2 separate regions of the Homo sapiens genome follow, and region 2 is linked to region 1. Evidence: fine-mapped expression QTL. Tissue or cell type: nasal epithelium. Region 1 holds a variant in brackets; the other region holds the start of a gene. All regions are shown on one strand. Distances are from middle to middle.

What was found. PIP is the estimated chance that this variant, and not a neighbour inherited with it, causes the effect.
Region 2: it holds the start of DNAH2, and the variant in region 1 is fine-mapped to the expression of DNAH2 in nasal epithelium (TOPMed, PIP above 0.99). The same link has a PIP of 0.9 or more in testis.

What each region holds. Positions count from the first base shown.
Region 1 is chr17:7,814,658-7,822,657 of GRCh38, forward strand. It overlaps DNAH2 (dynein axonemal heavy chain 2), which reads left to right. Exons shown (of 86, transcript NM_020877.5): 64 at 1,914-2,078; 65 at 2,633-2,758; 66 at 2,904-3,052; 67 at 3,133-3,199; 68 at 3,289-3,439; 69 at 3,655-3,803; 70 at 3,986-4,119; 71 at 4,262-4,406; 72 at 4,552-4,751; 73 at 6,586-6,712. Among named protein-coding and RNA genes, the nearest start is that of KDM6B, 16 kb to the right of the region's middle. The variant G/A (reference allele first, on the strand shown) is at 3,567.
Region 2 is chr17:7,713,366-7,721,365 of GRCh38, forward strand. DNAH2 (dynein axonemal heavy chain 2) reads left to right here and starts at 4,379. Exons shown (of 86, transcript NM_020877.5): 1 at 4,379-5,434; 2 at 6,356-6,535. The coding sequence starts at 6,370.

The DNA of each region.
Region 1 (8,000 bases):
GAGGTCAGGAGTTTGAGATCAGCCTCTACTAAAAACACAAAAATTGGCCGGGTGTGGTGGTGCATGCCTGTAATTCCAGCTACTCGGGAGGCTGAGGCAGGAGAATCGCTTGAACCCAGGAGGCAGAGGTTGCGGTGAGGTGAGATGTGCCATTGCACTCCAGCCTGGGAGACAAGAGCGAGACTCCGTCTCAAAACAAACAAACAAACAAAGTAGTTTGCCTCAGAGGAAGAAGTCTGGCTGTGGGAAAGGTGGTCTAGATGCTACTTTTCCTGTAACCTCTTTTATATCATTTAGGTTTTAACCTCGTGCATGTATGTCTTTCTTTCTTTTTGAGACAAAAAAAAAGAAAAAGAAAAAAGATTGGCCATGCTGGTCTGGAACTCCTGACCTGGTGATCTGCCTGCCTTGGCTTCCCAAAGTGCTGGGATTACAGGGTGAGCCACCGCACCTGGCCCTCCATGTTGTTTTAAAGAATATCTTCTGGAGAGTGATCTCTCCCATTTCCAAGTGCTTGGGTCAGGTAGTGCTTGCTTGCTGTGTGCCTTGCACCGTGCCATAGCCCACATCACCCTTACCTGCAGCCACCTTGGCGAGGCTCCGAAAGGATGAAACTTACCAGAATTACTCAGTTAAGGCAGAGCTACTTCTACTTTCTAGTAGTGGAACTATTTCCACGATGTGGGCTGCCTTTCCCAGTGAGGTGGCAGCGGGAAAGGGAACATGTATCGTGTAAATGCTATGTGTAATCCCCCACCCCATATTCCTCATGATGAAAAGGACGGTGATACAGTCTGTAACCAGGCACAACTGCTGTTGGGTGGTCAGATATACATACAGGATCACACACACATATACAGGATCACACACACATATACAGGATCACACACATATACAGGATCATACACACATATACAGGATCACACACACATATACAGGATCACATACACATACAGGATCACACACACATATACGGGATCACACACACGTATACGGGATCACACACATATACGGGATCACACACACATATATGGGATCACACACATGTATACGGGATCACACACACGTATACGGGATCACACACACATATACAGGATCACACACACATATACAGGATCTTGGGACAAGGCTCTATCAGTTCTCTCCTTCAGATTTCAGTGAATATATATATATTCATTCCAACCTCCACAGAGTCCACAGGTGGCAATGACTTGAGAGGGGTTTCTCTAGTATACACAGCTCTGCCCAGGCCTCCATCTCTAGTGTGGGACCTTGCACTTGGTCCTTTGTCTTTTTATTTTTATTCTTATTTTCTACTTTTTGAATAGAGGCGGGGTCTCACCATGTCGCCAGGCTGGTCTCAAGCTCCTGGCCTCAAGTGATCCTTCTGCCTTGGCTTGCCAAAGTATTGGGATTACAGGCATGAGCCACCACGCCCAGCCAGCTCTTTGTCTCGAATGGACTCTCCCTCTAACAGCTCTTGGGTTCATTTCTTTCTTTTTCTTCCTCTTTCAAGGTTCCACCTTAGGTATGGCCTCTGGCATGGAGTGGCAGTCATTTATGTGCTGTCTGGCCTTCACTTGCCACCATCTTGTGTGGCTTATTATGCTTCAAGAGGTCTCCGTCCCCTACCCAGCTACCCTGAAACTACCAAGTAGTTTCTGGGCTCTAGGAAAGGGTGGTGGAAGGAAGGGGAAGAAAATTCACCTCATCTCACGTATTTTATCTCATTTACTCTTCACGATAACCCTATAGGGTAGGTATTCTTTTACAACATGAGGAAACTAGGCTCAAAGAGATTAATTTAACAAAGCTACAAAATGGCAGCTACAAAATGGCAGAGTCATGATGTGAACAAGAACAATCTGGCTGCGAGCCCTGTGTTTGATGCGCTATACTCGAATCTCTCCCAGGTAGCTGAGAAACTGGAGATGCTAAAGAAACAGTATGATGAGAAGCTGGCACAGAAGGAGGAGCTTCGCAAGAAGTCTGAAGAGATGGAGCTGAAGCTGGAGCGAGCTGGGATGCTCGTGTCGGGGTTGGCTGGCGAGAAGGCCAGATGGGAGGAGACAGTCCAGGTGAGATCAGCTGTACTACCTGGTGTCCTTTCACTCTGCTCGCCACTTCCGAGAGACCCATCCCTTTTAGCTTGAGGAGCAGTCAGGGAAAACGGGGACACCTGGGTATAGGGAACTCTAAGAACTGAGGCGTGGGAGCTCTTCCCCTCCCCCTGCACACCTTTGGTGAGAGCAATGGAAGGAAAGGCTTTTTGCATTATTAGGGATCTGCTTCAGTGTTTGGGCAGGGCTGGGAAGCACACACAAGGACTCTTGATGTAGCCCAACAACCAGACAGAAAACAGACACAGCACATCTTGCTTCTGCCCCTCAGTGAGCTCCTGGCTTCACAGAAAGGTTAGGCCTTATCACCAGAATGTAAACATTGCCATTAGAGATAGAGAACTCAAAAGTAATTAGAACCAGGCTAGAGTTGTCAGGACACACAGGTTTAGGGGAGGGAAAGATCCTCTTTGAACCTGACAGTGTCCAGAAGAGGGTGCCTTCAAAAGCATTCCAAGTGTCTCCCAGAGTGCTGGGGCCCAGGCAGGCTTACCCTCCCTCCTGTCCGCCAGGGCCTGGAGGAGGACCTGGGCTACCTGGTGGGGGACTGTCTCCTGGCAGCTGCCTTCCTGTCCTACATGGGACCCTTCCTGACCAACTACCGGGATGAGATTGTCAACCAAATCTGGATCGGGAAGGTGAGATGGGACTCAGGCATGACAAGTAGGCTCCGAGACCAGGGCTGGGGGCAGGACCTTTGGGAATATTAAGAGATACCGTGAAGGCGCGGGGGCTGCTGGGCTCAGCTCTTCAAGTTAAAGCATGGGGCTTTTCTCTCCCCAGATCTGGGAGCTTCAGGTTCCTTGCTCCCCTTCTTTCGCCATCGATAACTTCCTGTGCAATCCTACCAAAGTCCGGGACTGGAACATCCAAGGGTTGCCCTCAGACGCCTTCTCCACTGAGAATGGCATCATCGTCACCCGAGGCAACAGGTGAGGGTGCTGCTGGGCGTGGGGGCGGTACGGGAGCATGGGAGAGAGGGCCTCACCTCTGACCTGTACTCCCCTTCCAGGTGGGCACTGATGATCGACCCTCAGGCCCAGGCCCTGAAATGGATTAAGAACATGGAAGGAGGCCAGGTGTGAGGCTGGGGGGTCAGGTTAGCCCCCCCCTTCCTGAGGCCCCACCTCTCCCGTAGTGTTCCTTCACCTTCCCCCTTGCTCTCTAGGGCCTGAAGATCATCGACCTGCAGATGAGCGATTACCTGCGAATCCTAGAACACGCCATTCACTTTGGATACCCGGTGCTACTTCAGAACGTGCAGGAATATCTGGACCCCACACTGAACCCCATGCTCAACAAATCTGTAGCCCGAATCGGTCAGGACAAGTCCCCAAGACCAGCCAAGTGGGATGCTAGGGAGGGAAGGGCTGGCTCTCTGACTGTGTCCTCTTCTTACCTGTCCCTCCATTCAGACAGCCCTGGCCTGGGGCCTTAGGACAGGCT[G/A]AGTCGCTGCCCCTGGATGCCGGTGGGGGATGGGTTAGCTGGTACCCATCACATGGAGTCCTTGCCCCTGACCCTTCCGTGGATGCAGGTGGTCGGCTGTTGATGCGCATTGGCGATAAGGAGGTGGAATATAATACCAATTTCCGTTTCTACATCACCACCAAGCTCTCCAACCCCCACTACAGCCCAGAGACCTCAGCCAAGACCACCATCGTCAACTTTGCTGTTAAAGAACAGGTGGGTACAGGCTGAGGTCCAGACTGAGCTAGGGTGAAGCAGGAAGAGTTTGGAAGGATTGAGAAAAGGGATAAGCTTGTGTTGGGCAGCTGAGGATGAGGGGTCTTTCAAGGTGGAAAGAGATGAGGAAGGTGAAGGTCGAAGGAGTGACAGCCCCTCACTGTGAGTCCTGATGCCCCCAGGGCCTGGAGGCCCAGCTGCTGGGCATTGTGGTGCGGAAGGAGCGGCCTGAGCTGGAGGAGCAGAAGGACTCACTGGTCATCAACATCGCGGCTGGTAAAAGGAAGCTCAAGGAGCTGGAGGATGAGATCCTGCGGTGAGGCCCTGCCTTCCCCTCCCACTGCCCCACGGGTCTACTCCCAGCCAGCCTCCACCCAGTCTACCCCAGGCACAACAGCATCCCAGGGAGCCTGGTCCCGCTAACCCCTTGCTCCATGTGCCTCTGGGCCTCCCCCTAGGCTGCTGAATGAGGCCACCGGCTCCCTGCTGGATGATGTGCAGCTGGTGAACACGCTGCATACCTCCAAGATCACAGCCACAGAGGTGACTGAGCAGCTGGAGACCAGTGAGACCACAGAGATCAACACTGACTTGGCGCGGGAGGTAAGCTCCCGGCCCTCCAGTCCTGCCTCCCACCAGCCATCCAAGATGCAACTCCATCATGACGGCTCGAGACCCCTCCTTCCCTGAGCCCCTGCTCCCTGCCACGTCCCTCAGTGGCCCTGACTCCACCCATCCCCACCGGCAGGCTTACCGCCCATGCGCCCAGCGGGCATCAATCCTGTTCTTCGTGCTCAATGATATGGGCTGCATCGACCCCATGTACCAGTTCTCACTGGATGCCTACATCAGCCTCTTTATTCTCAGCATTGACAAAAGCCACCGCAGCAATAAGCTGGAGGACCGCATTGACTACCTGAATGACTACCACACCTACGCTGTCTACAGGTCTGAGGGTGCCCCCAACATGCCCCAGCCCGGAGGCCGAGTGGCTGTGGTTCTTCTGGCCACTGCACCTTCGTGCTTTCCCGCACCGCGGCTCTCAGCCTGCCGCTGTCCTTGGCATATGTCCTCCTGGTAGCTCCTCACTCTCATGGCTTAACCATCACCTGTGGGCTGATGATTCCCTGTCTTGTGTCTGTAGCCCTCCCTTGAGCACTGGACTTGTCTACACAACTGTTGGAGATACCAGCACTGCCCAGATGTTAACGGGCAGGAAGTGCACTGGCAATCTTGTGAAAGTACCGGTTGGGATTCTGCAGGTCTGGGGTGGGGCCTGGGTTCTGCAACTCCAACAAGCTCCCAGGGGTGCCACTGCTCCTGGTCTGTGGATCACATTTGAGCAGCAAGGAACTGGACTTCTCTACCCTGACATCCCACAGACCCTTCAAGCTCAACTCACTTCAGATCAAACTCATTCTCTTCCCTCTTCCTTCAGGGTCCTCATCCTTGGATGGCACCAACACCCACAACCCAGTCACCCAAGCCAGAAATTGGGAGTTATCCTTTATTTTTTATAATTTTTATTTGTACAGAAAGGGTCTCCCTATGTTGCCCTGGCTCGTCTCAAACTCCTGAGCTCAAGGGATCCTCCTGCCATGGTCTCCCACAGTGTTGGGATTACAGGCATGAGCCACCACGCCTGGCAAAAACTGGGAGTTATCCTTGACTCTTCCCTTTCAAAGCAGTCACCAGGTTTTGTTCATGAATATTTCTGCAACTGTTCCCTCCCCATCTTCCCACTGCTTGGCTGTACTTTAGTTCTGGCCCTGGTGATCCTTTTTTCTGAGTTGCACAATGGTCTCCTAGAGGTCCTTCTGCCTCTACCCACTGTCCCTCTCAACCCACCCTCCTGTATTGCCCACCTGAACAAATCTGCCCATGCCGCTTCCCGGGTCTGACTGCCAGTGGTTGGTTGCTTGGCCCCTGTGGCCCACGAAAGCCCTCAGGACCTGGCCTTCTCCTGCCTCAGCCTCACCTTTCCCACCTTGCACTGGGGGCCTGAGCGTCCCTGACTGCCCTGCATGCTGTGCCCTTCTCATGCTTTTGCTCATGCTGTGATCTCTCTGCCTCTCCCATGTCACCTGAAAACTCTACTGCAGCTTGGGGCAGCTCCTCGGAAACTTTCCAAGTCCAGCAGGCAGGGACATCATAACTGATGGCCTCTCTGTCCTCTCCGAGACTGTGGCTTATTCATCTTTGTGTCTTCAGGACCTAGCAGAGTGCCTGGCAAGACAGTAGGGGAATAATGAATGTTTTGTTTTTTAATGGAACTGAATGACTAATTATGAGTGAATGGCTGGGCACGTTGGCTCACACCTGTAATCCCAGCACTTTGGAAAGCTGAGACGGGTGGATCACCTGAAGTCAGGAGTTCAAGACCAGACTGCCAACATGGTGAAACCCCATCTCTACTAAAAATACAAAAATTAGCCAGGCGTGGTGATGGGCTCCTGTAATCCCAGCTGCTTGGGAGCCTGACGCAGGAGAATCGCTTGAACCTGGGAGGTGGAGGTTGCAGTGTGTCGAGATCGTACCATGGTACTCCAGCCTAGGTGACAAGAGCGAAACTCTGTCTCAAAAAGTAATAATAATAATAAGTGGACTCTGGGAAATTCTTGTGTCTAGGCCCCTGAGTCCTCAGCTGTTTCCAGGAGGTTAGGATTAGAGGCTGGTGAGGTCCTCTGTGTGAAGCTGTGTGATAGTAGCATCATAGCATTCGCATGGAGCATCAGCCCCCATTCCATGCTGCCCCTCCCTCTTCCCTGTCCCTTTCTCCCAGGTACACCTGCCGTACCCTTTTCGAACGCCACAAACTACTATTCAGTTTTCATATGTGTGCCAAAATCTTGGAGACTTCTGGCAAGCTCAACATGGATGAATACAACTTCTTTCTACGTGGGGGTGTGGTGAGTTGGGCAGAGAGCACATCCCAGGATGGGATGGTCAAGGTTGGGGATGAGGGCAAGTGTGACAAGGACTCCAGACCCAGAGGGTCAGGCCCACAGCATCAGTGAGTGAGCTGAGAAAATCCAGGCCAGCATCAGGTGCATGGTGAGCTCCCTGGGGCTGCGGAGGTGACTTGCCATGCACCCCCTTGCACTCAGCGCAGGCTGGGCTTTGTGGCATGTCTCACCTGTGACCCACAAACTGGCCTGATCTTGCCGCTTTTTTACTGCCTTTCAAGGCACTCCTTCCCCAGCCTGAGTTCCATGGTCGCCCTCACAATCTCTCCCTCACAGGCTCCTCAACCCCAGCTTTTCTCCTCTCTCTGTCGCATCTACCGCTCTGGCTAGATCCAGCTCCTCTTCCCCTCTGTCCCTGCGCGGCCAGTGCACTGAGCATGGCCGGAGAAGAACACATCCACACCGACTGGACGCGCTTTAAGTCCATGATCGTGAACCTCAAGGAGGCCCCTAAGGCTTCCAGACAACCATGCTGCACTCTCCCGCCCTCCTAGACATTTTCTTGACTTTTCCCACCTTCACTTCCTGCCTCCCACCCCAAACTCTCAACACAGCAACCAGAGAGGTCCCACTCTGTCACTCACTGTGGCTGGACCGCAGTGGCAGTGATCTTGGCTTACTGCAGCCTCGACCTCCCAGGCTCAAGCCATCCTCGCATCTTAGCCTCTGGAGTAGCTGGGACTACAGGCCTGCGCCACCACGCCCGGCTAATTTTTGTATTTTTTGTAGAGGCGGGGTCCCACCATGTTGCCCAGGCTGGTCTCGAACTCCTGGGCTCAAGTGATCCTCCCACCTCAGCCTCCCAAAGTGCTGGGATTATAGGTGTGAGCCACTGTGCCCGGCCTGAGAGGTCCTTTTAAAGTGGATGCCATTGTGACGGGCTCCCCATGGCTGGCGCCACCTCCCACCACACAGCCCCCACTCCACTCCAGCCACGCAGGCCTCATTGCCCTCCCCAAACCCCCTGGCACGTCTCGCCTCAGGGCCTTTGCGTGGCCATGCCTTCTGCTGGAAGCCTACTCCCCGGCGTGTGCACCTGGCCATCTCTCACCTCCTTCAGACCTCACCTCAATGCGACCTTGATCTTCTTATTTAATACTTCAAACTACCCCTCAACACTCTCAGTCTCCCTTACCCTCCTCAGAGTATCCTATTTTTCCTTGGCACTGCCGTCTTTGCTATACTAGATAATTTACTTATTTGTTATGTTTTTGGTTCATAATCTGCCCAT
Region 2 (8,000 bases), 100 kb before region 1:
AGCTAAGTTTTGTATTTTTAGTAGGGTCGGGGTTTCAACATGTTGGCCAGGCTGGTCTCGAACTCCTGACCTTAGGTGCTCAGCCCACCTTGGCCTCCCAAAGTGCTGGGATGACAGGCATGAGCCACCGCACCCGGCCTGGAGCTGCTTTAGATGAGGAGGTCAGGAAGGTCCCTTTGAAAGAGATGCCCTTGATCAGGACCTTAAGTCATGAGACAGGAGTAAGCCATGCACACTGGGGACGGGCATGCTAGACAGAGGAACAGCAAGTGCACGGGCACAGAGGTGAGATTGTGGTGTGTTTGGGAACAGTAAGAAGGACATCACCACCACATGCATGTTTCGGATGTGTCCTGTTCTTCCCTAGCCTCGGCCTGGAGGGGAGTAAGTCACTTAGGGTCTTGGATCCACATTAAGGAAGTTGATCTCACTCAGTCTCCCATCCCCTTGCCTTTTGTTTCTTGTGTGTCTGTGACTTGTGTTTTCCTCGTCTAAATTTTAAGCTCTGGGAGGGCAAGGATGATGCTCTGAGCTTTTTTGGGGGCTGTGGCACAGCTGCTGGCAGAGTCCAGAGCAGGAAGGCAGAGCGGAAGTAAAGGAACCGAGAGGGCTGGGACCACAGAAGCTAGAGCTGTCGCCCTGCCATCCCCAAACCGCATAGGATTGAGGCTGTCTTGGGGCTGAGCTGTAGAGTGAAGCTCAGGCTTTGCCCTCCTTCCAAATAACGGCAGCTGAGGGATACTATTCAGCCCGAGGTGCGTGTGTGTGTGCGTGTGTGTGTGTGTGTGTGTGTGTGTGTGTTGGGGGTTTTTAGGGAAAGGGGAATGGGGCAAGGAGTGGCAGTGGGAATTTCTTTTCTTTTTCTTTTCTTTTTTTTTTTTTTTGAGACAGTCTCGCTCTGTGGCCCAGGCTGGAGTGCAGTGGTGCAATTCTCGTGCCTCAGCCTCCCGAGTAGCTGGGACTACAGGCATGTGCCACCACGCCCGGCTAATTTTTTGTATTTTTAGTAGAGATGGGGTTTCACCACATTGGCCAGGCTGGTCTTGAACTCCCGACCTCAGGTGATCCACCCACCTCAGCTTCCCAAAGTGCTGGAATTACAGATGTGAGCCACTGTGCCTGGCCTTGCAGTGGGAATTTCTGATGCGGAATGGTTGACATCATATCTGGAATTTTAATTAGAATGAAAAATGGCCCTTCCTAAGGGGCTATATGGGCCACCGTGGACATGGGGCTTGGGAGAGTTTTGAGACCTGGGAGAAATGTCACACGGTGGTTTGGAGGCAGGAGGCTGTCTGGCATAGGCTCAGAGTTGGGTGGGGGAAGGAAAAGGGACACAGAATGAATGGGAATGACAACTGGGCAGCCAGAGAGCTACTTGAAAGGTAGCAGGGAAAGTGGAGTTCTGAAGGGAGTTCTGAGGGGACCAGGCCCCAGGTACCCCAATTCCCACAGGGAATCGAAGTGTTCAGTTTTCTGGTTCTCCCTCTTCCTCCAGTTGCCATCAGAAACTCAGGCACCGCAACCCCAGTGGCTGGCGGGGTGATGTCGGGGGGAGACTGAGCTGCTTCAGGGGGTAGCAGCTGGTGAGTTGGGAGGAATCTGTGTGCTCAGCAAACAGCAGCCTCAGTGCCCGGTGGCTGCCTCCTCCCTCATCAATCAGCCCCAGCCAAATGTCCTTGCATTCCCACCACCCCAAGGGGACTGGGGCTGGGCCAGGGTCCCCAGGGGAGATGGGGATGGGTGGGGGGAGGTGAAGGGGGGTGCTTGGCTTCCTTTCCCTTGGCCTCTGTTCTCTTCTGTCCTGGAAGCTCTCAGTTCTTCATGTCATGGAATGACTATCCTGGCCCCTACCATCGTGGGGGCATCAGCTACAAATCACCTGTGGGGGGCTGCTGGGGGAGAAGGATGAGTCAGGCTGTAGAGTAATCTACTCTGGTTCTCACGGGACCAGCCCAGGGCACAGCCGGCAGGGAGGCTGCTGGCATAGAGGCCCTGTCTCCCCTGGCCTCTGTCTCTGATGAATGATCCGGACAGCAGGCCGAGACCCTGACCCCTGGAATGGACCTCTCTTTCCACCTTCTCCTAGCCCCCAGTCCTCATCCCCTGCTTCCAGCCAAGATCCAGAGGTCTGGCCCCCAGCTCACCCCAAATCTGCTGTTCCCCACTAGGGACTGGGGTCTCTAGACCTTAGCCTCTGGCTCCCTTTCCCCCTCCTCAGCCTTTGCTCCCCTCCGGGACCCAGGCGTCCTGCCCACTCCCTTCACCATAACAACCATTCTTTTGGAGTTGCTTAAGACTTTAATATCATTTCATTAAGTCAGCAAGTTCAGAGAAGGTTGGGGGCACAAAGAGACTGGGGGTGGGCAAAAGAGGGCCAAAGTAGGGGGGAGGCAAGGAAAGATCCCCCACCCCCCTCTCCGTGGAGATGGCTCTGAGAAATCAAATATTGACAATGAGGGAACAGAACTTATTAAATCTGGGACAGGGATGTGTGTGGGGAGCTGTGGGAATGGCCGGATGCCTGGGTTCGGAGGGTAATGAAGGTTCTGGGAGGAGGAAAAGGGCCGTGGCTGGGAGGTGCAGCAAGGCTGAGGCTCGAGGTCACAACTCTTCTGCCCTTTCCTTTGGGATGTACACGGTCTTGCAACCCTGGCTGTTTCTCTAGCCCCGAAGAGCCCCTGGGGAAAAGACCCCCATCATAGCTAGCTGTGGTTGCCCCGCCTTCGTCCCTTCCCCCTACCTCCACCTCTGTTGATGAGCTTCAGCAGCGTTTAATCGGATTGAGCAGTAATTAGCAAAGCGAGATGTTTGATTACCTATTTAGCATAATGTGGGGGGCTGGGATCCGTAGGCACAGCCACAGTTGGGGAGGGGGGTTTAAGAAAAGAAATGGGGTCTGTGCAAAGTTCCTTTCCCCGAGGGACCCATGAACCTTGCCCCTGAGGCTCCCCACCCCACGCCTCCAGCAAATTTTCACTCCTTTGGGACTTTTCCCTAGGGGTTCTGGCCAACCACATCACCTCTGTCTGCCACCCATGGCCTATCTGGCTAGAGGAACACCTCCACGTTCCATCTTAGCTGTGCTAGCTGTGCAGCTGGTTTTGGGGTGGGCGGTACTCCTCTCCTTCCATTCCTGCTGTCAGCAACAGGAGTCTGGCTGGGCAGGAGGAATTATTGGGGGTCGGGGGGAGGGAAAGGGTTGACACTTCTGGGAATAAAGATACGGTAGGTGGGAGGGTGAGGTCAGCGCTGGGATAGGGTGTGGTTAATCCACTTGCTCTTCAGGAGTACCAGGGACTGCCACTCCTGGTAGTGCCAGGCTGGCATAATGAGATCTGTTAGGTGTGAACGCCAAACAGAAAATGGGGGAACTGAGGTGCCAGCTTCTCTTCTCCTCATCCAGCAAAGAAAATGTCATAAATTTCGCTCCTCATGGAAATGTAATCAGTGGGCTCGCTGCTGGCTTTGTCTTAATTAGGCACTATTGATGGAAACAGGGAGGGCGCCTTCCCATCCCCCCACTCGGCTTCCTCCCTGTATTTCCCAGGTCTCCCCAAAGCTCCTCCCGGCACCAGGTACAGCGGTCTTCCAGGCGCCTTCTAGCAGCCCCGGCCCGCAGCGCCCCCTGGCACCCTCGGAGATGTACCCCGGCCCTCATAGCCCTCCCCTCTCGCCTCCTCTCTCACGACGCAGCCTTTGTTCCTATGGAGAGCGAAGCCCCTCCCAGGCCCGGTCACCTTCCCCAGGGAGTCCCCGCCTCTCATCCCCCCCAAAAACCAGCGATGCCTTCGAAAGCCAATCCTCAGATTCCCAAAACTCCAGTTCCCGTCTTCCCTCCCTTTCCCCGCCCCGCGCCGCCCCCCCGCAATCCTAGACCCCAATCCGAACTAAGAAGGGGGAAGGAGCAGGAGGGCAAGGGTGCTCCAGGCCCGGTTTTTCCCCCGGATCCAGCTGCACCCACGGCTGCCTGGAAATCCTGGAACGCCTTCTACATCGCGAATATCCCTCGCCGGCCTGGCGCCCGGCGCCATCTGCTGGACCCGTTCCGGCTGGGGCGCACAGACCTGGGCGCGGGGTCGGGCGATTGGGTTCTCCCTGCCTTTTCAATGTCCTGCGGGGCGGTGGCTCACTGTCTCTCGCCCCAGCCCTTCCAGCTGGGTCCTGACACCAGGCCCCCCGCACCCTTCGGCTCGCCAGATGTGGCTACTTTCCTTTAGTCCCGGAGCCTTCAAGCCCTGGGTCCCTGAGGGGTAGACCTGGGCGGGGTGGGGCCGCGAAGCAGGGATCCAGGGCGCCTGCGCGGAGGAGGCGGGCTCCGAGGGGCCGCACACCGGCCACTCGCCCCTCCCTGCCCGGGGTTGCCATGGGGACGCGTGCAGACGCCGGCCCGAGAGGGCTGCGAGGGGCAACTTCTTAGAGTGGCCCATCGGTCGGTCTAGGGAGGGGAGGGTCAGCGTGGCAAGGTGTGTGTCGGGGGCAGAGGGAAGGAGGGAAGGAGTGCTGGGGAGAAGGGGCAGTAGTGTCGGGGTAGGAAGGGACAGTTGTTGGGGAGAAGAGGCAGTTGTGGAGGGAGAGGGAGCAAGGAATATTTGTGTGGGGGAGGGGGAGGAGAAGGGGCAGTTGTGACAGCTGGGGGGGAAGAGCCATTCTGAGGGGAAATTTGCCTGCTGGTAACCAGTTTAAGGATACCAGCTGCTGGTATAAATACTGCTGGATAAATACTGCTGGATTTATACTGCAGGATAAATACTGCTGGCCCCTGCGGTATTTCCTAGTACTAGAGTGAGCCCCGACTTAGCAGAGCAGTTCCTCCTGGGGCCTGCGGTGTGGGATCGCGTGGTGAACCCCACGGTGCATGCGCCTCAGGCTCTAGTTTGAGGCAGGAAAGCGCAGCTTGATGCTTCTCTGGAGACTGATGGAGGAAGCCTCCTTGCTGTAGTTGGTTTTATTGATTTGCTGGCCTAACAGAACGTTTTTCCTTGGAGCAAAGTACAAATCCTTCAAGTTTGAAATTCATAACCTGAGATCAATGCCTGTGGCAGCCTGTGGGGATGAGGAAGGAGAGCCACAGGTGCCGTTAGGCTGCAGCCTAATGAAAAGAGAGTGCCCAGCGCCTCAGACTTTGCGCCTGGGATTCTGAGCACCTGTCCGAGATCCCCGCTTCCTGCCATCCTACCTTTCTGAGAGAGGCACCACTGTGACCTTCCTCGTGCCCCAATTGCTTTTTCCTCATGACACAATTTGAAATTTATGATTGGATGACTTTTGTCCTTCTTTCTTCCAATCTGTTCTCAGGGCATTTTGAGTCAAATAAATGATCCTGACTGATCTTAACCATTAGCACAGAGTTCCTCAGCCAACTCTGCTAAGAGACCTCAGTACACACAAAACAGTGTTCCTGCCCCTCAGGACTTCAAAGCGATAGACCCAGGTGGCAAATACTGTTTTTCTCTGTTTACAGATGTTGCAGATTTTAGTGGGATTGGGAGGAGCATATTTCCATTTAACTTGGGAGGAAAAGAGGTACATAGGAAAATCATCTTGGTTTGCTTGAATGATTGAACAGTGACAAAGGATGGGGGATGTGCACCCCTTCCTTGATCCTCTCTCACTCACTCATGGTCCTGGAGGGTAGAGTGGATGAGGGTTTGGGCAACCACACTTCAGCTTGATAGATCTTTTCCTGATTATCTTATGTTCTCATACCCCGGGGCAGAGATAGAGGTTCTAAATCCTCATTAGTGGGGTGTCTGGCCATCTTTTTTTTTTTTTTTTTTGAGATAGAGTCTCACTCTGTCAGCCAGGCTGGAGTATAGTAGCATGATCTTGGCTCACTGCAGCCTCTACCTCTCGGGTTCAAGAGATTCTCCTGCCTCAGCCTCCCGAGTAGCTGGAATTACAGGCACGCACCACCACTCCTGGCTAATTTTTTGTATTTTTAGTAGAGACGGGGTTTTGCCATGTTGGCCAGGCTGGTCTCGAACTCCTGACCTCAGGTGATCCACCCGGCTCGGCCTCCCAAAATGCTGGGATTACAAGCATGAGCCACCGCACCCAGCCTGGCCATCATCTTTAACTCCCATTTGTTCCTAGTGCCTTGAGGGACTGACTTTGATTTTTAGCCCAGTGCCCCGAAGACAGTAGGATATCCTAGGGAAAAACAGCAAGGCCTCCCAGGCCCCTGTGGAGTACAGAGCCCTTGTGGTTAATGGAGCAGGGTGTGGGTACCACCAGAAAAGATGATCATATTGAGTTTCAGTCAATTTATGAATTCAAAAGGGACTGCTTGTATCAGGGGGCTGGTTCAGGGGTGGTATCTGCTTGTAGACTCTCCACTCCTGTATACCTGTAGGTTTTGCCTGCACGATGTCCAGCAAAGCTGAGAAGAAGCAGCGATTGAGTGGCCGAGGAAGCTCCCAGGCAAGCTGGTCAGGGCGGGCCACTCGGGCTGCTGTGGCCACACAGGAGCAGGGGAATGCCCCGGCTGTCAGTGAGCCAGAGCTGCAGGCTGAGCTCCCCAAGGAGGAGCCTGGTGGGTACTTGCTGGGGCAGAGGATGCTTAGCAATGGAGGGTGGGGAAAGTCAGAGGGGCTTGGAGGCATTTTAGGGCTGGGGAGCAGGCGCTGTTGCTTCTGGGCAGGAAACGGGCTAAGTGACGCCCCCAGCCATGGAGGTTCAGCAGCCCTGCCACTGAGTCCTTTTTTTGTATGTCTTCCTCCTGGCCAGCCTCATCCTTGTTCTTTCTGTCTTAAAATTTCCCACAATATACCAGGAGTTCACCAACCAGTCCTTTCTCTAGCCTCTTCCTCCTTATTTCAAGTGTTCCTGGTTGCTCCTACCCCACTGAAGAGGGTTTGATCTCTTCCTTTTTCCCATTTTCACCCTGGGTGGCAAAACAAATAATGTTTTTCTCCCATTAAGCCCATCACCATGGAGACTCAGCCTGTTTTGCCACCCTTTGAATCCAAAGCCCGGCTGATGCTTTCTACCATCTGTTGAGGGCTGTTCTATCTCCGCCCTCATTTTGGCAGGGACTTGGTAGACTGCGGAGGTTCAGGTTCAGGATGACAGGAAAGAAGTCTAGATCTAGGGAGGAAAGAGTTTAACGAGGCAGCCTCTTGTGGCTTTGACCTGAGGGATTCCTTTCCTGTGGGTGAGCCGGAGCCAGTAAGGTTGGAAGGTTTTTGGTAGTTGTTGCTATTGCTGGGATCTCCCTGAGAGCACTGGTCAGTGTAGACAGGACTATGAGCTAAGTGTAGACCTCCTTCTTTACCTGGAGCTCCTTTACACTGATAGTAGCTTGTGAAATAGAATCCCCTTCTAAAATTAAAGGTTGAGAGGTTAAGCGTGGGCATGGGAGAAAAGTCCCTGGGCCATAAGAACTTGCATTAGGTTCCAGGATCTTAGAAATGTGCAGAATGTATCCTTCTGAGTTCTGAAGTGCTCAGGTGAAAGCAGTTAAAATGGGATTGCTCGCTGCTAGGAGGAGTAGGGGAAGATGGGAGGGAAGACAGTGAGGTTCAGTATGGAGAATCCTCTGGGGAGGTAAGGGAAGGAGCTTTAAAATGAATGTGTTGGCCTTCGAACAGCAAGGATTTCTGCCTCTCCCAGCTCCAAGCTTTCTTTTCTTTCTTTCTTTTTTTTTTTTTTTTTTTTTTGAGACAAATTCTCACTCTGTCTCCCAGCCTGGAGTGCATTGGCATAATCTCAGCTCACTGCAACCTCTGCCTCCCGGGCTCAAGTGATTCTTGTGCCTCAGCCTCCCAAGTAGCTGGGATTACAGGCATACACCACCATGCCCAGCTTATTTTTTTTATTTTTTTGAGACAGAGTCTCTCTCAGTTGCCAAGGCTAGAGTGCAGTGGTGCGATCTCAGTTCACTGCAACCTCCACCTCCTGGGTTCAAGCGATTCTCCTGCCTCAGCCTCCTGAGTAGCTGGGATTACAGGCGTGTGCCACCACACCCGGCTAATTTTTGTATTTTTAGTAGAGATGGG